3 linked regions of the Homo sapiens genome follow. The protein of the gene in region 1 interacts with the protein of each later gene in a pairwise test. Each region holds a gene or a part of one and is shown on either strand. Other genes may lie near its edges.

Region 1 (7,493 bases):
ACTAGGGTTTTTTTTTAGAAATTCAGTAAAGTTGTAAAATTTATTGCTTTAAAGTAAAAATAAGGACTTTTTTTTTCCCTTTGGTCGCCCAGGCTGGAGTGCAATGGCACGATCTCAACTCACTGCAACCTTCGCCTCCCGGGTTCAAGCAATTCCCCTGCCTCAGCCTCCCAAGTAGCTGGGATTACAGGCGCCTGCCACCACGTCCAGCTAATTTTTGTATTTTTAGTAGAGACGGGGTTTTACCATGTTGGCCAGGCTGGTCTCGATTTTGAGATGGAGTTTCCCTCTTGTTGCCCAGGCTGGAGTGCAATGGCACGATCTCCGCTAACTACAACCTCCGCCTCCTGGTTTCAAGCGATTCTCCTGCCTCAGCCTCCTGGGTAGCTGGAATTACAAGCGCCTGCCACCACGCCCAGCTAATTTTTTGTATTTTTAGTAGAGATGGGGTTTCACCATGTTGGCCAGGCTGGTCTCGAACTCCTGACCTCAGGTGACCCGCCTGCCTCAGCCTCTCAAAGTGCTGGGATTATAGATGTGAGCCACCATGCCCAGCCAAAATAAGGACTCTTTATGTTGCAGAGTCAGGCAAATAAATTAGAAAAAAAGATAAAACTGCCTTCACAAATGGCATGATTGTCTTTGCAGAAAACTAATACAATGTATGAAAAAACTACTGGAACAAATAAATGCGTTTAGCCAGGCTGCAGGATACAAAATCAACACACAAAAATCTGTTGTATTTCTATATACTGGCGACAAACACTGATAAATTAAAAATTTTAAACAACACCCTTTACAACCACATCAAGGTTATGCAATACTTGGAGGCAATTCTGAAAAGATGTGCAAGACCCTTACATTGAACACTACAAAATGGGGCTGAGAAAATTTATTTTTTAATTTATTTTTAATTTTTTAGAGACAGAGTCCCACCATGTGGCTCAGGCTGGTCTTGAACTCCTGAGCTCAAGTGATCCTCCCACCTCAACCTCCTAAGTAGCTGGGACTACAGGCGCACCACCAGCCCAGCTTTTTATATTTGTTGTAGAGATGGGGTTTCGCCACGTTACTGAGGCTGGTTTCCAACTCCTGGGCTCAAGCAATCCACCCTCCTCGGCCTCCCAAAGTGCTGGGATTACATAGCCATGAGCCTAGCTGAGAGAATTTAAAGACCCAAATAAACAGAGAGAAATACTATGTTCACTAGACAGAAGTTACCAGTTCTCCCTCAACTGACCTACAGATTCAACACAATTCCACTCAAAATGCCAGAAGCCTTTTTTTTTTTTTGTAGAAATTGACAAACGATTCTAAAATTTATATGGAAATGCAGGCTGGGCACTGTGGCTCACCTGTAATCCCAGCACTTTGGAAGGCTGAGGTGGGTGGATCACTTGCGGTCAGGAGTTCTAGACCAGCCTGGCCAACAGGGTGAAACCCCGTCTCTACTGAAAATACAAAAATTAGCCAGGTTTGGTGGTGCATGCCTGTATTCCCAGCTACTTGCAAGGCTGAGCCATGAGAATTACTTGAACGCAGGAGGTAGAGGCTGAAGCAAGCTGAGATTGCATCACTGCACTCCAGCTTGGGCAACAGAGCCAGACCTTGCCTCAAAAAAAAAAAAAAAAAAAAAAAAAAAAAAGGAAATACAGAGGACCTAAAATAACCCAAATAACTTTAAAAAAAAAAAAGTCAGAGAATTAACACTACCTGATTTCAACACTTATTTTAGAAAGCTATAGTAACCAAGACAGTCTGGTATTGGCATAAAGATAGATGAGTAAGTCAGGATAGAAAAGTCCAGAAAGGATCGTCATTTCGACAAATAATATGGGAACAACTGGATACCATGTTTTAAAATGAAAAAAACTTTGGCTTTCTAATTTTGCAATCTGATAGGTGTAATGAGGCATCTTGTTATTTTAATTTGGGTTTGTCAGGTTGCTGATGAATTTAAGCATCTCTCCATGTGCTTCTCCGGTATTTGGGTTTCTCCTACGAATTGCTTTTTTTTTTTTTTTTTTTTTTGAGACAGAGTCTCGCTCTGTGGCCCACGCCTGAGTTCAGTGGTGTGATTTCCGCTCCCTCCAACCTCTGCCTCCTGGGTTCAAGCGATTCTCCTGCCTCAGCCTCCTGAGTAGCTGGGATGACAGGCATGAACCACCACGCCCCACTGTTTTCGTATTTTTAGTAGAAACGGGGTTTCACTATGATGGCCAGGCTGTGAATTGCCTATTCTTATCTTCTGCACATTTGTCTATTGTCGGTCTTTTTCTCGTCGATTTACAAGCATTCCTTTTTTCATTCTGAATATTAATCCATTGCTTTCTGATGCTGTAACTAAGTCCTCCTAGTGGTTTGTCTTCTTGGTTAAGCCAGATGTTAACTTGGATTTTTCCTGCATAAAACTGAAGACTCAAGATGCATCAAGCACTGTATACAGAAAAGTGCTGCGTATCCTACAGAAAGCTACAGACAGTTGGGGGTCAGAATCATTCGGATTGTTTCAAGTTTGGGGCTATTATAAATAAAGCTGCTATAAACGTTTGCACACAGGTTTCTGTGAACAAAAATTTTCATTTCAACCAACTAATGTTTACGGTTCAATCATGATTTCACAACTTGAAGTAACTTTCACTCTTCTCATACTAAATTTGATATGTCGTCCACTGTTAAACTATTTCTTACCCTCAGATTATAATTATTAAACTTTTTTTTTTTTTTTTGAGAGGGAGTTTTGCTCTTGTGGCCCAGGCTGGAGTGCAATGGCAAAATCTCGGCTCACCGCAGACTCCGCCTCCCGGGTTCAAGCCATTCTCCTGCCTCAGCCTCCCGAGTAGCTGGGCTTACAGGCAAGCCATGCGCCACCAAGCCCGGCTAGTTTTGTATTTTTAGTAGAGACGAGGTTTCTCCATGCTGGCCAGGCTGGTCTCGAACTCCCGACCTCAGGTGATCCGCCCGCCTTGGCCTCCCAAAGTGCTGGGATTACAGGCGTGAGCCACCGTGACCGGCCTAATCATTAAACTTCTTTCAGCACTAGCCCCACTGATGTCACAACTTCACCCATTAGTCAATAACTTGTCTTTGCTGAATTCGACACTTTTGAATCATTTAAAAAATATTCTCTTAAATTTTATGTGCTATTTGCAATGTAACGGTTGTCGACATGACAGTTTTAAGTTTAATCTTTATCATCAACATTTTCTCTATCACTTTCTTCAGTTTAAGCAATCAACAAAACCACCGCTCCAGCACTGATTTGTAGCATTTGCGGGTTTCCCCCGTGTGACTTCCGCAGGACTGCCAAGTTCAAGCCGCCAGGGCCAGGGCACTGCTAGCAGCTGGGCTGAGCCCTGTTCTCCCGGCGTTCCCACCGCCCAGTGGCAATAGCTGTGAACGGCGGCAGGAGCATGGCAGTGGAACAATAAGGAAAAGATCTTTTAAAAAAAAGATATAATACAGAAGCCAAGCAAGGCGGCCCCGACCTGTAACCCCAGCACTCTGGGAGGCAGAGGCGGGCGGGCGGATCGCTTGAGCCCAGGAGTTTGAGACCAGCCTGGCCAACATAGGAAGGCCTCGTCAAAAAGACAAAAGGGTAAAACGAATTTAATAAAATGAAGTTTAACTTTTACTCATGTTTGTATCTAATGACAAGCTTTTAAAACTGAAAAGTTCACTACTGGCTCCTGCCTGGCGGCTCCAGCCCGACTGGGGGCCGGGGCCTCCCTGCACTGTGGGGTCACGAGTGCCCCTGGACAGCTCCCGAGCGCCCTCCGACCCGCATGCTCAGCGCAGCCCCGTCGGCGGCGCGCCACGGGCAGAGCGGGCTCAGCGGGGGACGGAAGCTCAGCGCTGCGACCGGGATCCCGCAGGCTCGCTCCGCAGGGCCGCGGCTCCTCTCCGTGCAGGTGCTGGGCCCGCGGGGGCGGGGCGTCCACACGGTCCGCGCCGAGACCCAAGCGGGGAAAAAGCGAAGAGCGGACAGCGGGGCAGGTGCCACAGGGAGCCTCCGCCCCACCGCGCGAGCAGCAAGTCTGCGGCGCTTGACACCTGCACTGCGAATGCCAGGCCGCAGCCCGGGCTCCCAAGACGCGAATACGCGCGCCTGCTCGTGACGTCATTTTTTGCGGTCTTCCCGAGAGCCAGCAGAGGGCGCCGCCATGATGTTTTACGGAAGCCGATAGTCCTTGCTCAGCGGCACCCCGTCCTTCCGGCTCTCGGCTTTGCCACAAAGCTTCCCGAAGACGCGGCCGCTACCCGGAGACGCGGTCGCCACCCAGAAGCGCTCTCCCGGGAAGCCCCGCTCGTGGGACCGCGCCACCTGCGCCGCCTCTGCGGCCCGCAGCCCGACGGGCGCCGCCATGTTGGGGTCCTAGCGAGGGACGCGTAGGTGTCTTCATAAGATGCCGGGGCAGCGGCGCGCGCTTTCCCCCAAGATGGCGTCCATGCGGGAGAGCGACACGGGCCTGTGGCTGCACAACAAGCTGGGGGCCACGGACGAGCTGTGGGCGCCGCCCAGCATCGCGTCCCTGCTCACGGCCGCGGTCATCGACAACATCCGTCTCTGCTTCCATGGCCTCTCGTCGGCAGTGAAGCTCAAGTTGCTACTCGGGACGCTGCACCTCCCGCGCCGCACGGTGGACGAGGTAAGGCAGGCGTGGCGCCCCGCGGCCCCCAGATTCCCAACCTTCCCACCTCCGACCCGCACACCCAACTCCGGACCCTCCTCGCTCCCTCCCCCAACCTTCCCATCCCCCTTCAGACTGTTAACCCCCCCGGCCCGCCCTCACGCCCCCTCCTCGCTCCTCCGAATACCTCCCTCCAGTCCTCACCTCCCCCTGGGTCCTCATCCCCCGCCTCGATCCTCATCTCCCACCTCGGTTCTCATCCCCACCGTGGGTCTTCAGGACCCCCCGCCCCTCCTCGCCCCCTGGGAATCCCCCACTAGGGTCCTCACCTCCCTACTTTTCGTCCTCACCCCTACCCAAGTTTTCACCTCCCCTGGGATCCTCAATCTCCTCCCCGCCGGGCCCCGGGTTCTCGCTACGACCCCCAGGTCCTCACTCCCCTCCCTGGGCCCCCGGGTACTCATCCCCACCCGCCCCCGCCTCCCCCGCCTTCGGTCCTCACCACCCTAATCCCCCACCGTGCCGAAGCGACCGACTCTTGGAGCGGGGGTGCGCCGGCCCCAGCGGGGTCTCCCATCGGGGTTTCCCGTCGGGGACGCAGCCCTGGTGACCTGGGCGAGGGCGGGGATCCCGAGAGAAACCCCCGCGTGAGGAAGGGGCGGCCTGGGCTCGGTAGCTCCAGTGTCCGCTGACTGGATTTTCTTGTTCTCACCTCGCAAAGACCCCGGCCGTCCGGAGCGCTCTGTGTCCGTTTTACTCTTTTCTACACGCCGTTTTGCGTCATTCCAATAAGTGGGTGTGTGAGGTTTGTTTTCTTTTTTCCTAAACTTTATATTGTATCGCTTTCCGTGCGAAATAAACCGAGTAGTTTTGCAGACTATTGAAGCCCCATGGTTGTTTAAACGTTCCTGGCTACTGATGTATTATTAGCTATTATAGGTTGTAATTGCTTTTGATTGAGATATGACATGTATGGAAAAGTGCATTTTTGTTCAGTTTAACGAATAATAATAGCATCGCGAGCCACTCCTGTGATCCTTACACAGGTGGAGAAGTAGAACCATGCCTGTTCCTTGGAAGCCTCCCACTGGTAATCACGGCCTTCTTCCTTTCCCCTTCCTCATTTTGGAAAGGTAATCATTTCTGTGCCATCTCCCCGGTGTGAGCAATTATTTATGCACCCCTAAATGGCACAGCTTGGTTGCCGGATTTGGAGTTAGTGTGATGGTATCATAGTGTATTTTGTGTGTGGCGTGCATGTGTCTTTTTGGTCGACGCCGTGACAGTTTCATCCACGTTGCAGCTGACTGCAGTTTAATTTTCACTGCTGCGTGGTATTCCTGTCTGTGAGCACGAGGCACTTTATCCATTCTGCCACAGTGACACGCTTAGCTTTTGTGCTCTTGTAAATCATCCCGTTACTACATTACGGTCATATGTTCAGGTGTTTGGAATCTTGGATTTCTCTAGGGTATAACATCTAGGAGTGGAATTGTGAGGATCATAGGATCATGCCAAATTATTTTTCAGAGTGTTTTGTTTTTGTGTTTGTGTTTTGTTTGAGACAGGGTCTGGCGCTGTCAACCAGGCTGGAGTGCAGTGGCACCATCGTGACTCACTGCAGCCTTGACCTCCTCACCTCAGATCTTCCCATCTCAGCCTCCTGAGTAGCTGGGACTACAGGGTTTCACCATGCTGCCCAGGCTGGTCTTGAACTCCTGACCTCAAGCAATCTGCTTGCCTCAGCCTCCTGAAGGGCTGGGATTACAGGTGTGAGCCATGGCACTCGGCCTGCTGTTTGGTTTTCTGCTTTGAGAATTGTATATTCAAATCTGCTTTTAAATTCTCTTTTTTCCCATTGTTTTGTAAGAGTGTCTTTTTTATTATTTATTATAAATGCTAGATATCAGTCCTTTTTCAGTTACAAATATCTCCCAGTTGTCCTTTGACTTTGACTTAGCTTCCTGGAATCCTTTTTTTTTTTTTTTTTTTTTTTTTTGAGACAGCGTCTCACTCTGTCACCCAGGCTAGAGTCTAGTGGTATAATCATAGCTCACTTTAACCTTGAACTCCTGGGCTTAAGCAGTCCTCCCTCCTAAACCTCTGTAGTAGCTGGGACTGATGCGCTGCCACCACGCCTGGCTAATTTTTGTGCATGTGTATGGAGATGGGGGTCTTACTGTATTGCCCAGGCTGGTCTTGAACTCCTAGCCTCAAGTGATCCTCCTGCCTTGGCCTCCCATAGTGTTGGGATTACAGGTGTGATCTGTGCGCCCAGCCCTTTTCCTGGAATCATGGATGAATAGAAGCTCCTAGTTTTAACATAGATGGTGTATTCATCCGCCCACTATCATTGGTGCCTATTGTGTCTCCCCGAGGGACATGCCCGGAACACTCCCTGGGTTATCTTGGCGTAGCTGTACAGTTTTACCTTTCGCACTTGAATCTTCAGTCTGCGTGGAATTGATGATTGTGTGAAGCAGGGAGTCTAATTTTCCACATGGATGTGCAATTAGTCCAGCACCCAACGTTGATTGAAATGACTGTCCTTTTCCATTGATCTGCACTGCAGCTTCTGCTGTGGATGTGTTTCTGGGCTGTGCTCTGTTCTTTTGGTCATTTACATATCGATGTGCTAATAACCCACTAAGTCGGTTCTTGTCACTTTATTTATAAGCCTTGTTAGCGGACGGAGCAAACCCTCCCACTGTATCTTTCTCCGGGATCATCTATGGCTATTCTTGTCCCTTCACACTTCCACATGTATCTTATATACTTACTTCTTAAACACGTAGAGCCTGCCTGCTGGGATTTTAAGGCTGAGCTGAACTTGCAGTTCATTCTGGGGTGCTGTCCTCTTTA
Region 2 (7,238 bases), on another chromosome or scaffold:
AGGAGAATGACTTGAACCCAGGAGGCAGAAGTTGCAGTGAGCTGAGATCACGCCATTGCACTCCAGCCCGGGCAACAAGAGCAAAACTCCATCTCAAAAAAAAGAAAAGAAAAGAAGGTATGGCCCCAGCCTGGGGAGGCATACAGCTTAGATGGAGCAGTAATGTCCACAAAGTAGAATAACCAAACACACAAGACAACTAGGGAAAAAGGGCGTGTAGCACAGCATAAAGACAGAGCTAACTCAATGAGCGCCACTTTCACAGGGAAGATAAATACTGCACTTATCCTGGGGGAGGCTTCCGGGTTGAACAATCAGTATACCCAAGCCAGTTGTGTACAAAGGTCAGGAAAGAGACCCTGGCCTTGGACTCAGAAAGTGCCAGGGTTATGTAAGAGGCTGGCTGATGAGGGGAAACTGTAGTCGGAGCAGCAGCTGGAGCCCACATGCACCTACCATGAGCAGGTCCCTGCCCTCTGGCTCCAGATTGGGCACAATCTCTTCCAGTCCCTTCCTGGTCCACTTAGGGAAGCTGCCCTTATAGTCAGGCAGCTGGGTGACCCCGGGCCATGTGTCTTCGCTGGGTGTCCCCAGCATACGAAAGATACGAAAGAGCTGGTCAATCTCAGAGTCACCAGGAAACAGGGCTTTTCGAGTCACCTGAAATGGGGAAGAAGAGAAGGTGTGGGGTCCGCCACTTTGTTATACAGAATCCAATACCAGATAAGTGGCCAGACCCAGGGAGAGGCCTGTCAAGATATCTTTTCCATGACTGTGCAAAGAATTCTGGCCTCTTTTGGAATAAAGCTACCTTCCTCAGTCCTTTAGCCAGTACCAAACACCTTTTTTTAAAAAATAGAGACGGAGTCTTGCTCTGTCACCCAGGCTAGAGTGCAGTCGTGCGATCACAGCTCACTGCAGCCTCAACCACAGGCTCAAGCAATCCTCCTGCCTCAACCTCCCAAGTAGCTGGGACTACAAGCATGCACCACCACACCCAGCTAATTTTTGTAGTTTTTTAAGAGCTGGGGATTTGTTACGTTGCCCAGGCTGGTCTCAAACTCCTGGGCTCAAGCCATCCTCCCATCTCAGCCTCCCAAAGTGCTGGGATTACGGGCGTGAGCCATGTCCAGCCCCAAACACTCTTTAATCCGCCTCGAATGGGAGCATCAGTGGACCCCACCCAACCCCAGTAGGACCCTGCCTGTGGCACCCTGTGGCCATGTGTGCCCCTCTCTCTACCATCTCTGCAAAGATGCAACCAATGCTCCAGATATCCACAGCTGTGGTATAGAACTTGCTGCCCAAGAGAATCTCGGGGGCGCGATACCACAGTGTCACCACCTGCAGGGCAAAGAAACAGTATCACTCAGGGTGGCTGAGTGCATGGGTGACACTCCTCCTGCTGCCCCTCTCTCCTCTTTGTCTCACAATACCTCATGGGTGTAGGTGCGCAGGGGCACCCCGAAGGCGCGAGCCAGGCCGAAGTCAGCCAGCTTGATGGCACCCAACTCATTGATGAGCAGGTTCTGGGGCTTCAGGTCTCGGTGGATGACCCGATGTGAGTGGCAGAAACTCACCCCCTGCAGCAGCTGGAAGAGGTAGCTCTGGAGAAACGAGCGCGAGGTGCAGCCAGCTGAGCGGAGGTGCTGCGTGGACAGGGATGGCAGGGATGGGGTGTCACCTCTCCTTCCCTGCCCTTCCTTCCCTACCTTGATGAGGTGCAGGGGGAGCTCTGAGCCTGGGGTGGAGTCCATGTACTTCTTCAGGTCCTGGCTGAGGAACTCAAACACCAGATAGAGCTTCCTCTCGTTGTGCACCACGTCCAGCAGTCTGACAGGGAGATGGCAGTCAGGATGCTACCTTCGCCATCCCAGCTTCCCCACCTCAATCCCCAACTCACCGGACGATGTTGGGGTGCTTCAGTTCCTTGAGCAGCGAGATCTCCCTGATGGCAGTGCTTGGGACCCCCTCCATCTCCCTGCAAGAAACAAGGGCACAGCCGTGGGCAGAGACTTGGGCCAAGAAGGGCACTTCCAGCCAGGGGGATCGGCTTCTCCTTAACCCCACAGAATGACCAGGGCCCCGGCAATGGAGACCTGTGCTCCTTGGCACGTCATCCACCAAACTCCACAGTCAGGGCCCCGGCAAAGGCTGGTCAGAAGGCAGTGAACTGGGGAGAGGACAGGTAAGGGCTGCTGGGCAGCACCCAGAGGAGTTAAACGTGGACTCCAGGAAAGAGGGAACGGATCAGGGAGCGCCCAGGTTGTGATGGCCCAGGGTGGGTAACTCAGGGGCCGTCCCAGCACTCACAAATCCAGTCTGATCTTCTTCAGGGCCACCAGCTGCCCTGTCTCCCTGTTCTTGGCCTTGTACACCACCCCATAGGTGCCCTCTCCGATCTTCTCTACCTTCTGGAACATATCCATGGCCACAGAGCTGCCTGGGAAACAGAAGGCACCGGGCAATTTGCACCCCACGCCCAGCGCTCCCGTTGCTCCTCCAGCTTCCATGTGGCGCCCTGCCCAGCCCAGCCCAGCCCAGACTGCCCAGCTCCCAAGGCCCACGGCCTAGCCACCCCAACCCCAGCTCATCCTGCCTGGGAACCTGGCTGGGGGTCGGAAACCGCCCCTCACCCAGCCCAGCCCGGACCCCAAGGGGGTCAGGGGGCCCCCTTCACCCAGCCCAGTTCAGCCAGGACCCCCAGGCTTCTCGCCCATGCCCGGCCTCGGAGGGCAGGGCCCACACTCTCCCACCCAGCCCCCTGCCCATCCCAGCCAGAACCCCCAGGAAGTCAGAGACCACCCCTCGCCCAGCCCAGCCCAACATGGACCCCCAGGCCTCTCACTTGTGCCGGGCCTTAGAGGGCAAGACCACCCTTTCCCACCTGGGTCACTGCCCAGCCCAGCCAGTCCCAGGCTCTGGGTACACATGGCGGCCAGGAAGGGCTGCCCAGGGGCCAGGGCCACTGGGGGCAGAGGTCAGGGGTCAGGAGGGTCTTAAAGCCACAGTCCTGTCTTAGGCTGCACGGTCAGGGCCCAGGGCCTCAGCCCGGCCCGTGTGACGACGCTCAGCCTCCTCTGAAGGCAGAGCCTGGCCAGGGGCAGACCCCTGCATCCTGGGCCCCCCACCCCAGCCCCTGGGCCCCTGGTGCCCTACCCTGAGGCCCCAGGCCCAGAATTCACCAGAAGCCCTGAGAGGCTGCAGCCCACAGCCTGGGTTGCAGCTCCCCCTCCTGGCCCCCGCCGGCGCTGCACCACGAGCACACTTCAAGAGCACGCCCCCTGGGCCTTTATTCACCAGGACCTTCTGGAACCCTCCATGGCCCCACACCAAGCACGGCCCCGGCGCCCAAGCTCGGCCACCTGCAGTCTCCTGGGGTGGGGCTGTCGGATTTATGGCATGCTTTCTGGGTTCTCATTGCTGAGCCAATCCCAAAGTAGGGGAAGGGGCTGGATTCATCACCCGCCCCTCGGCTTTCGAGCTCCAGACAAGGCCGTCGCTGGGGAGGCGTCTGTGCTCTCCCGGGCTCCTGCAGCTCCAGAGGGTTCGGGCTCTGAAGCAGGTGAGGGTGTTGCTAGGCTGCTGTTTCCTACTGGCTGCCGCCCCGCTCCTGCTTGTACAGTCTCTGCTCCCGGATGGCTTGTTCCAACAAGGGCAGGTTCATCCCCTCCACACAGGTCAGCACGCGCGCCTTCACCACGGAGCCTCTGTCTGCAAGACAAACACCAGGGCACGAACGGCGACTGAGCGGCGTGTCAACAACGTCCTCCAAGGTGCATTCCAGCTGTTCCCTCCACAGCTCAGTCCTGGGTTTTGGCAGCAAGTGATGTGGACAATAACAGCATATGGGGCAAAGGCAACTGAGTATTTGGGCCTAGAACCGTGGGCCTGTCATGCACAGTCGGCCCGTGTCTGGAACTTAGCAGGTGGTCAGAAAACCCCTCTGGACTGAGGGAAAGGCCCCCTTGGCACCTTGGGACACAATGTCATCAGGAACCGGGGAAAAGAGACACCCATATTTTAAAAATCCAAGAGACTGAGCTCCCGGTAAGTTTGGCTTTATAGGAGCAGGTCATCCCACCCTGGACGAGGGGGGCTTCTAGCAGATGCGGTGGTGACCTGATACATAATGGAAAGGTTTGCCACTATTCAGGTGGCACCAAACAGGAAAGACATCTCCGAGAGACTTTTTAAAAATTTTCTTTCTTTTGACAGGTGAACTGGCTCACACCTGTAATCTCAGCACTTTGGGAGGCCAAGGCATGTGGAACACTTGAGGTCAGGAGTTCAAGACCAGCCTGGCCAACATGATGAAACCCCATCTCTACTAAAAATACAAAAATTAGCCGCGTGTAGTGGTGCATGCCTGTAATCCCAGCTACTTGGAAGGCTGAGGCAGGAGAATTGCTTGAACCCAGGAGGTGGAGGTTGCAGTGAGCCAAGATCACGCCACTGCACTCCAGCCTGGGCAACAGAGCAAGACTCCACCTAAAAAAAAAAATTTTTTTTTTGAGACAGGGTGTTGCTCTGTCACTTGGGCTGGAATGCAGTGGCTCAATCATGGCTCAATGTAGCCTCCACCTCCCAGGCTCAGGTGATCATCTCAGCTTCCTGAGGAGCTGGGACTACAGGGACGCACCACCACACCCAGCTAATTTTTGTATTTCTTGTAGAGATGGGGTCTCGCCATGTTGCCCAGGCTGGTTTCAAACTCCTGGGGTCAAGTGATCTGCCCGCCTCGGCCTCCCAACATGCATGGATTATAGGCGTGAGCCACTGTGCATTGCTGACATTTTTTTTTTCTTTCTTTTTTCCCCAGTCATAGCTTGCAAGAGAAAAAAAAAAGTTAAAAAAATTTTTTGCACTCATGCTCTTTCTGCTCTCTGAGCACTTTAATAAATAGATTTCCGAGATGGGTGGATCACCTGAGGTCAGGAGTTCATGACCAGCTTGGCCAACACGGCAAAACCCCGTCTCTACTAAAAATACAAAAATTAGCCAGGTGTGGTAGCTGGCACCTGTAAACCCAGCTACTCGGGAGGCTGAGGCAGGAGAATCGCTTGAACCTGGGAGGCAGACGTTGCAGTGAGCCGAGATCAAGCCACTGCACTCCAGCCTGGGCAACAGAGTGAGACTCTGTCTCAAAATAAGTAAATAAATAGATTCAATGTTCTAGGCTATTACATTGTTTTCTTTTGACGCTGTTTGAGATAAAGGCTCTGCCTGCCCTTTCCTCTAGTCTAGGTCATTTATAGCACAGCCTGAGGGCAGAATTCAGGGTGTCATCCTGCCTAGCTGTCTATACAGGCTACCCTTAGGCAATGAACTCATTTGAAACATGAGGTTGCCTGTGTGTCTCAGCTTCTGTTAGCCCCAGTGCTGACACAGGTCAGAGAGGAATCGGGGCGTGGCGCGGTGGCTCCCAACACTGTAATCCCAACACTTTGGGAGGGCAAGACAAGCAGATCACTTGAGGCCAGGAGCTCAAGACCAGCCTGGCCAACAAGCGAAAACCCTGTCTCTACTAAAAATACAAAAGTTACCCAGGCCCGACTACTTGGGAGGCTGAGGCACGAGAATCACTTGAACCGGGGAGGTGGATGTCGCAGTGAGCCAAGATTGCGCCACTGCACTCCAGCCTGGGAAACAGAATGAGACTCTGTCTCAAAAAAAAAAAAAAAAGGAAAAAAAAAGGAAAAAGGCCAGGCGCAGTGGCTCACATCTGTAATCCCAGCACTCTGGGAGGCTGACGCAGGCGGATCACCTGAGGTCAGGAGCTGAAGACCAGCCTGGCCAACATGGTGAAACCCTGTCTCTACTAAAAAGACAAAAATTAGCTGGGTGTGGTGGCGGGCACCTGTAATCCCAGCTACTAGGGAGGCTGAGGCAGAATCGCTTGAACCCAGGAAGCAGAGGTTGCAGTAAGCAGAGATCGTGCCACTGCACTCCCAGCCTGGGTGACAGAGCGAGACTCCATCTCAGGAAAAAAAAAAAAAGATTAAGAACCTGGAGCAAAGAAGAAGGGCCTGGGTTATAAAAAGCAGTCAGAATGCAGTGGGGTGAGGCCTGGGAAGAGGAAGGGGTTATACGGAGCACAGATGTTCTTTTAGGAGGTTTGTCTGCAAAGGGAGGGAAGGTCATGGGCAGGTAGGTCAGACTCTAGTGTAGAAGATGACTTCTTGTCATTGAGACTATTATTTCCATATAGAGGAGGCTTGAACACCTTATATGTGGACAGGGAAGAACTGTGGTAACCCCTTAGGTAGGAGGGACCCCGCTTCCTCTTAGACTAGAGGAAGGAGCTAACGGTGGCCGTTTCAGTGTCTGATGGTCGGTGGCCGTTTCAGTGTCTGATGGTAGGAGGAAGAACGGCTGCCTGTGGCCTCGATTCTAGCTGGCTCATAAAGCAATAAGCCGGGAGGGACAGGGGAGGAGAGGAAGTGGGTTCTTGTGAGGCAGGGGAATTTCTGGACTAGCTGTGGTGGCGCCGGGGAGGGGGGTGTGGCCAGGACACAGGAAGGATTTCTAGGCAGAGCAGGGGAATGCCAGTGAGCCCCTGAAATCATTGAGCTCCAAATCCTTGGAGTTCTGTGATCTTTCTGCACTCAACAGTTGGCAGAACCAGGAGGGTGGAGGCTGGGGTCTTGGGGCAGGAGTGAAGCTGCCAGGAAAGTGGCTGAAATGGTAGTGAGGCCCAACGGGGAAGAGAGATGGGGGAGAAAGCCCGGGAGTCCTGAGTCCACAGGTCCTGATAGGGCAAGAGGGACGCAGCAGAAGTAGAAGGGAGAGTGGATGGCATGCAATTTCAGGAAAACAAGTCCAAGGTGCAGCAGCAGGCGTGGGAGGTGGAATTGGGGCAGAGGTGCACAGTGGTGGAACTGGTTGGCAGCAGGGAGACAGGGAGGGATGTGTGATGCTGACACACCCGAGGAGCCGGGGAAACTCCGGCCCTGCTCCAGACTCTGTGGGTGTGTGGTTTGGGGAGAAAGGTTTGGGCAAGTCCCAGAGCTGTAAGGATGCTCGAAGAGGGAGGTGCACAGGGGACACACAGGAAGGTTTCCCTCCCTCCCTTTCTCTTCTCTTTTCTCTTTCTTTTCTTTTCTTTCTTTTTCTTTCTTTCTCTCTCTCTTTTTTTTTTTTTTTTTGACAGGGTCTCACTCTGTCACCCAGGCTGCAGTACAGTGGTACAGTCTCAGCTCACTGCAATCTCTGCCTCCCTGGCTCAAGTGATCCTC
Region 3 (6,711 bases), on another chromosome or scaffold:
CCTGCCCCAGCCCCCACCCTCAGACCATCAGGTGAAGCCCCTGCACCCACCTGTCTGTCTGAACAAGAGCGTGGCCCTTCCCGCCCTGCCTGCAGTGGCTGTGGCTTCCTGGGGACAGGAGGCAGCTGGGTGGGGATCTGGAGGATGCTCCTCAAGCCCTGCCCTGATGGCTGTGTGTCTCCAAGGAAGTTCCTGCTGCTCTGGGCAGCCTTGCTTTCCCCCACCAAACAAAGGGGTGAAAACCCTTAGAACGCGTTGAGTCTGGGGGTCAGCTCCCTCGTGCCCCAGGAGGCCCCTGCCTCTGCCAGAGGAGTCTGATGTTCCAGGGCTGGGACTCAAGGAGTTTAGGGTGTCCTGTGATTCCGGGGCTCCCCTGCTAAGAGGCCTCACTGTGAGGCCGGGGGCGCTGCCTTGCCAGTCCGCGGGATGATGGGGTGAGGGGCCAGGCGTGCATCTCCAGCCCCCTCCCCATCCCCAAGGCCCCCACGTGGACATGGAGCTGAAAGGTCAAATGTGCTTTAATGCGGGGTGGCTCCCAGGTCCTCCCTGGGCCCCGGGGGAGTGGCGCTGGCTGGGCCTGCCGGCTGCCTGGCCTTCCTTCCCGGCTTTCCCTTCTTGGCCGTCGAGGCCTTTCTCTTGCCAGACAGAATGGGGGCCGGGGTGTTGGTGGCAGGGGGCCCCGGGTGGGGCGGCTGCTCCTCGTCGAGCGCCTTGAAGTTGAAGAAGTAGTCAACGTTGGACACGGTGTCCAGGATCTCAGGCACGCTGTAGTCAAAGGACAGCAGCTCCTCGGGCAGGCACAGCGAGCGGATGTCATCGGCTGAGTTCCCACCACTGCTGTCAGGCAGGGCCGGCCCAGGGACCTCGCACAGGGTACCCTCAGGCTCAGAGGCGCCTGGCAGGCAGTCGAAGAGCTTCATGGCGTCCTCCAGCAGAACCTTGTCAGGCAGTGCCAAAGCTCTGGCCGTCTTGGGGGCCTTGGCCTTGCCTGCTCCCAGCAGGGCCCCCTCCTTGACCTCGGCCACCTTGAGCTCGCTGAGGCCCGGTGGGTACAGGGGCACCCCAGGTCGGGCCCCACTGCCCTGCAGCTCCTTGACGGGGAAGGCCAGGGGTTCGGGCCCAGGGAAGTGGCCGAGGTGACCCTGGAGGTGGCTGTAGGCGTCTGGGGGCAGTGTGGGCTCTGCAGGCAGCGTGATGAGTACAGGGGGCGGCTTGTTCTCCTTGGGGGGTGGGGGTGGCAGCGGGGCCGGGCCTTCCTCTAGGGGCGGTAGGGGCAGCTCCACGAAGGCGGCGGGCCCTGCGTCCCCCACAAAACCCAGAGCCTCTGGCCCGGGGCCCTCAGGCGGGAAGTAGGGCAAGAGAAACTGGGGCCCCCCGGGTGCCTGCTGGTAGTGGGGGTATGGAGGCAGCCCCGGGGCCTTGAGGTAGGGCTGAGGCTCCAGGAGGTAGCTGCCTGGGGCGGAGGGGACCCCCGCTGGCCCCCCGCTGCTTGCTGCCAGCTTATACAGGGCTGACTGGCCCAGGTCGGGGGTGGTCCACTCGATCCGATAGATGCGGGGGTCGAAGAAGCACCCGCATGGGGCCATCTGGAAACCTGTGGGCGGCAGGCGGGTGCCCTGAGAGCAGCTGCTGCCTGAGGGGCCCAGCCCAAGCCTGGGGGCCTGTTTGGGAGATGCCACAAGAACCTTGCCATTGGGGGGCCCCTTTGGGGGACGACATAGATATTGCTTTGGGGCCCTGGCTGGGTGATGGATGACACAGAGCTTGTCTTTGGGGCTCATCTGGGGGACCTGTGTGAAGCATGGGGAGCAGAGGCCATGCCTTCAGGCTCCCACTTAGGGACGGGGCAGGGGCAAGATGGGCCTGCACACTCAAACCCACTCCCAGCCTCGTCAAGGGCTCAGGGGAGGCCGGTACCTGCTGGTGGGGCTGGAAACACCTCTTTCTCTGGGTCTGGGGGATGATACAGGTTCAAGGAGCCTGTGGACAAAGGTGCCCAGGTGGGTAGGGCCCTTAGGCGGGTGGGCCCCTGAACCCTCTCCAGCAGGTGCTCCCACCCACCCGATCGTACCCATAGCGGGAGGAGGCTCGGCACAGGTGGGAGCAGGCTGGTTGCCCAGCACCTCAGCCCCCTCCAGACTCTGCGGGCTGAAACCTTCCTGGGGAGCTGCAGGGGCACAGAACGGTTTGGGGTGCTGCATGGGGCAGCGGGGGGCCCGGTCCAGACAGGCCAGGAGGGCGGCAGTGGGAGTGCAAGTGGCCCAACCGGAGAACAGGCTGAGAACCTGGTGGGGTTCTGTTTGCCTGGTTACTCGGGGCAGCGGGTTCCAGCCTGCAGCGCGCCCACTGGTTGGGGTTCTGGGTGTTGGGGGCAAGCAGGGGCAGACGTTGGCAGACATGGTCATCACCATGGGAGGGAGGATTCTGGGCCAGGCCTTTGCCTCTTCCAGCAACACCCCCCTAACAGCTTTGAGGCCGCCTCCTCCAGGCAGGCTGCCCTGATCCACACCCACACAGGCTGAGGCCCCCCGGGTCCTCAACCCGCTACCTTCTTGGGGGTCAAGGCCTCTCTGGGCACCAGCAGCACCCAGCTTGGGGCAGGGCCCATGGAGGCAGCTAAGAGGTTTGGGGAAGGTGGGGGCCGAGGAGGGGCTGCTTCAGGGTCACAGAAAGGCCTGGATTTTAAAAGAATAAAATTTATTGTACTCTCCTCGCCCCAGGGTGCCCCTGGGAAAGCCTGAGGCTACTTGTACGCGTTGGCCTTGTGCTTCGGCAAGAAGGCGAAGCTGGGGGGCACTGGCCCAAGGAGCATCTCGCTGTGGGAGAGCAGGTGGAAAGCGAGGTCAGGCCCAGGACCTGCAAAGTACCCTCCGTGACCCCGGGCCCCCGACTGCAGCTCCCCAACTCCAGCCCACCCAGGCACCTGATGCGGATCCAGTCGGCTGCCTTCTGGCTGGCCATCAGCGTCTCCAGGTAGTCGCGGCCCAGGTAGTAGGGCGGCCGCTCGTTGATCCTCTGTGGGAGCCGCTCCAGCAGCCCCACGGGCACGTACCTGCGGCGGGTGGGCGGGCAGGACAGGCTTGAGTCAGCTCTAACCAGCCGCGGCCCACGCGCCGCCCACCCCAGCCAGCCCCGGTGCCCACCGGCACAGGAAGGACAGCCACTCGAGCAGAAAGCGCCGGGTCTTCTCCACGCCCTGCGTGTCCGAGCCCCAGTGCTCCAGGCCGTAGTTGGTGAAGTCCCGCAGGATGTCCAGGCGCTCGGACGACGAGATGTCCCAGTGCCGCTGCTCCTTGATCTCCGTGAAGAGCCACGGCTTGAGCAGGGCGCCACTGTGGGACGGGTGACGATCAGTGGGCCCAGCCACCAGCCTGCCTGGGATCGTGTGGCCTCTGCTTCCATGGCCTGGCCTGAGCCGGAGCCCAGACCACAAAACCTACAAGCCTAGTAAGCCTCCCAGCTGCATGCACACAACCTTCAAAGCACAGGACTTTCTTTTGTTTTTTCTGAGACGGAGTCTGGCTCTGTCGCCCAGGCTGGGGTGCAGTGGTAAGATCTCGGCTCACTGTTCAACCTCCGTCTCCCAGGTTCAGGCAATTGTCCTGCCTCAGCCTCCCTAGTAGTTGGGATTACAGGCGTGTACCACTACACCTGGCTAATTTTTGTATTTTTAATAGAGATGTTTCACCATGTTGGTCAGGCTAGTCTTGAACCTCCGACCTCAAATGATCGGCGTGCCTTGGCCTCCCAAAGTGCTGGGATTACAGGCGTGAGCCACACACCTGGCCAAAGCCCAGGACTTTCAACCCACAATCATCAGATCCCACAGCAGCAGCAATTTCCAGTCCCCTCTGCCGCAACGCAGCTGCAACTCCTGACATCGCTCTCTGCTCCTCCCATCTTGGGACCAACAGCCCACCACAGAACAGGGGTGGGTGACGGCGTGTTGGGTTCAGGGCACTGCTGCTGTGCATGAAGCTGGATCTCTAACATCCCTGGGCACTTACCGGGCAATCATGATCCCGGTGACACCAGTCTGCATGGCGCGGTTGGCATCCTCAAATGACAAGATGTCCCCATTTCCTGAGGAGACAGAGGCTGGGGTCTCAGGGAGACATGGGCAGGTGGGACCCTGGAGTTCTGCTCACCAGCCCTTCAGGAGTTTTGGCTGACCCAGTGGCTCCCATCAGGGTGGTACGAGGGGGTCCCAAGTGGGAAGGCGAACAGCCCAGAGGTGTGAGTGACCAAGGGTGGTAGGGGAGAGGGAGGTGGCTTCCCGGAACACCCACCGAACAGGGGCATGGGGCTGGCGGCCTGCACGCACTCCTCGATGTACTGCCAGTCGGCTAGCTTGGTGTAGCGCTGCTCCCGAGAGCGGCCGTGGAGCTGGGGGAGAAGCCGCCACGCAGGGTAGGAGGCAGAGAGTGAGACGCAGAGAGGAAGAGACCAAGAGAGCCAGGCTGAGAGAGACAGAGAGAGACACAGGCGGAGACAGAGGGAGGTGTGGAGGTGAAGAGGGAGGGATGGGAGGAGAGGAGCCATTAGGAAGGGACGCGGGGTCGACCGCGAGGCCCCAATGCCCGAGGCGTCCCAAGACCCACCGTGACGAGTGCCACGCCCCAGTCCCGCAGCTCGGGCAGCAGGCGGTGCGCCAGGTTCACACGCTCCTGGACGCCTGTGCGGATCTTCACAGTCAGCGGCACATCCAGCACCTACAGGACGGTGGTGGGAGGTGGTGGGAGATGGTGGGAGGTGGTGGGAGACGGTGGGAGGTGGTGGGAGACAGGGCCCGGGGGAGTTGTTTGGGAGCCAGTGCGAGGATGTGGCTGGCCGTACCTGGTTCATGCCACGGACGATCTGCTGGAACTTGGTGGAGCGATTCATGAGGGCACAGCCCCCACCCTGGAAGAGACAGGCGGGTGGAGGGAGGGCAGGACGTGGGCTGACCCAAGACCCCTCACCCCTGCTGCCCGGAGGCCCCCACCAGGAGACGCCGACCTGCAGGAAAGGCAGGGACTCCAGGGCCACACTTGAGCCCAAACCCCTGACCCTCCACCGAGACATCGCCGGCTGGGTCAGTGCCTCCCTGCCCAGATGGGGAAACCGAGGCACACGTCCAGGGCCGCTACCTTCTTGTACACGAGGTCGATGGGGCAGCCGACGTTGATGTCCACAAAGTCCACCTCCACGGTGCGGCTCAGCAGCTCGGCACACTTGGTCATGGTGTCGGGGAAGGCGCCCTCCAGCTGTAGGTGGGTAGTGGCAGAACAGGAGGGTGAGGGGAGAGTCCGAACTGTCCCCACTTGGCCGTTCCCTCCCCACTGGGGGGCCCTGAGCCAGTGGCCTCCTCTCTCGGGGCCTCCCCGGAAGGAGCCAAGGTCTGTCTGCGAGGCACCGGTCCCCGGCCACGGCCATCAGCCCCCAGAGGTGGATCAGGGCATCACCCCCACTCCACAGCTGAGGCCAGGGGGTCAGGGAGGCAACCAGGGCAGACCTGGAACCTGGCTCTGAGACAGGACGGCCGAGGGCCCCTCCACTCTCCCTCCCTCGGGGTGGGCACTGACCTGGACGCCAAAGATGTCCTCACACTGGTGGCGTTTGAGTAGGGCCCACTCGGACATCTGGCCCTGCAGCAGGTTGGTGCAGACGGCCATCTCTCCACATGTCACATCCGCCCCGAAGCGCTTGCAGATCCGTCGGAAGGGCAGGTTCCCACACTGCGGGGGGAGCAGGACAGACACACATGCTCTTGCACGCGCACACACACACACACACAGCAGAACCCTGAATATGCGCCCCAGCCCCACAATCCAGTAGGTGGGGACAGACACTAAGCCCTGTTGGAATGACCACACTGCCACCCTGCCACCCGACCAGCCACCTGACCCAGGTCCTACCGTGGTGAGGGGGGCCAGGTAAAGTTTGCCACGGATGTCCAGCTGGAGGGAAAAAAATACACACAAGTGGAGCTTGGCCTCCACCCCAGCTGCTGAGGCCCTGGAGCCTCCCTTCTACCCACAGTCTAGGACACACTTGGCCCAAATGGTCTGGCTCCTTTGCTGGGCCTCTGCATGTGCCAATCAATCCCTTCATCAGGAATGTTCCTTTCCTCATCGTCTCCTCCACTGGAGAGCTTCTACTTAACCATCCAAACCCAGTCCCAATGCCCCCTCTTCCAGGAAGCCTCCCACATTTGTCCCCCGCTGCCCGACCCTGACCCTCTGAGACTTAGAGTGTGTCCAGCTCTTTTTTTTTTTTTTTTTTTGAGATAGAGTCTTGCTCTGTTGCCCAGGCTGGAGTGCGGTGGCACAATCTTGGCTCACTGCAACATCCGCCTCCTGGGTTCAAGTGATTCTCCTGCCTCAGCCTCCTGAGTGGCTGGAATTACAGGTGCCCGCCACCAGGCCCGGCTAATTTTTGTATTTTTAGTAGAGATAGGGTTTCACCATGATGGCTAGGCTGGTTTTGAACTCCCGACTTCAAATGATCTGCCTGCCTCAGCCTCCCAAAGTGCTGGGATTACAGGCGTGAGCCACCGCCCCCGGCCCTGTCCAGCTCTTTCTGTCCCCACCTCCTGAGGGCTGGGCCCAGGACAGAGCACAGAGAGGGAGACTCAGCCAGGAGCTCCCTCAAGGCACACAGCCTCTGACTCCCAGGCAGCTAGAACAGGAACGTGGACACAGCTGGTATTTAATAGACGCACACCAGATG

What was found. Proteins that work in one complex are often made in the same cells at the same time.
Region 2: the proteins of NELFA (region 1) and CDK3 interact in binary tests that used the Homo sapiens proteins (3 or more experiments, as listed by UniProt).
Region 3: the proteins of NELFA (region 1) and PRR22 interact in a two-hybrid assay, tested with the Homo sapiens proteins (2 studies listed by BioGRID).

Annotation. Positions count from the first base shown.
Region 1 is NC_000004.12:2,005,906-2,013,398, reverse strand, and holds the start of NELFA (negative elongation factor A), read left to right. Parts: upstream 1-4,424; 5' UTR 4,425-4,439; coding exon 4,440-4,649; intron 4,650-5,352; coding exon of another isoform or gene 5,353-5,436; intron 5,437-7,493. Other genes in the region: uncharacterized protein LOC124900839, read left to right, coding at 3,638-4,393. UniProt on the Homo sapiens protein: Essential component of the NELF complex, a complex that negatively regulates the elongation of transcription by RNA polymerase II.
Region 2 is NC_000017.11:75,996,617-76,003,854, reverse strand, and holds the start of CDK3 (cyclin-dependent kinase 3), read right to left. Parts: upstream 3,001-7,238; 5' UTR 2,888-3,000; exon of another isoform or gene 2,444-2,887; 5' UTR 2,430-2,443; coding exon 2,314-2,429; intron 1,982-2,313; coding exon 1,904-1,981; intron 1,834-1,903; coding exon 1,713-1,833; intron 1,608-1,712; coding exon 1,437-1,607; intron 1,345-1,436; coding exon 1,243-1,344; intron 661-1,242; coding exon 457-660; intron 1-456. Other genes in the region: CST complex subunit TEN1, read right to left, coding at 3,593-3,714. UniProt on the Homo sapiens protein: Serine/threonine-protein kinase that plays a critical role in the control of the eukaryotic cell cycle; involved in G0-G1 and G1-S cell cycle transitions. Interacts with CCNC/cyclin-C during interphase. Phosphorylates histone H1, ATF1, RB1 and CABLES1.
Region 3 is NC_000019.10:5,782,460-5,789,170, forward strand, and holds PRR22 (proline-rich protein 22), read right to left. Parts: upstream 2,288-6,711; 5' UTR 2,202-2,287; coding exon 2,072-2,201; intron 1,981-2,071; coding exon 1,918-1,980; intron 1,595-1,917; coding exon 519-1,594; 3' UTR 501-518; downstream 1-500. Other genes in the region: DUS3L (tRNA-dihydrouridine(47) synthase [NAD(P)(+)]-like), read right to left, coding at 2,744-2,816, 2,924-3,052, 3,144-3,332, 4,008-4,083, 4,290-4,386, 4,602-4,712, 4,837-4,902, 5,130-5,246 and 2 more.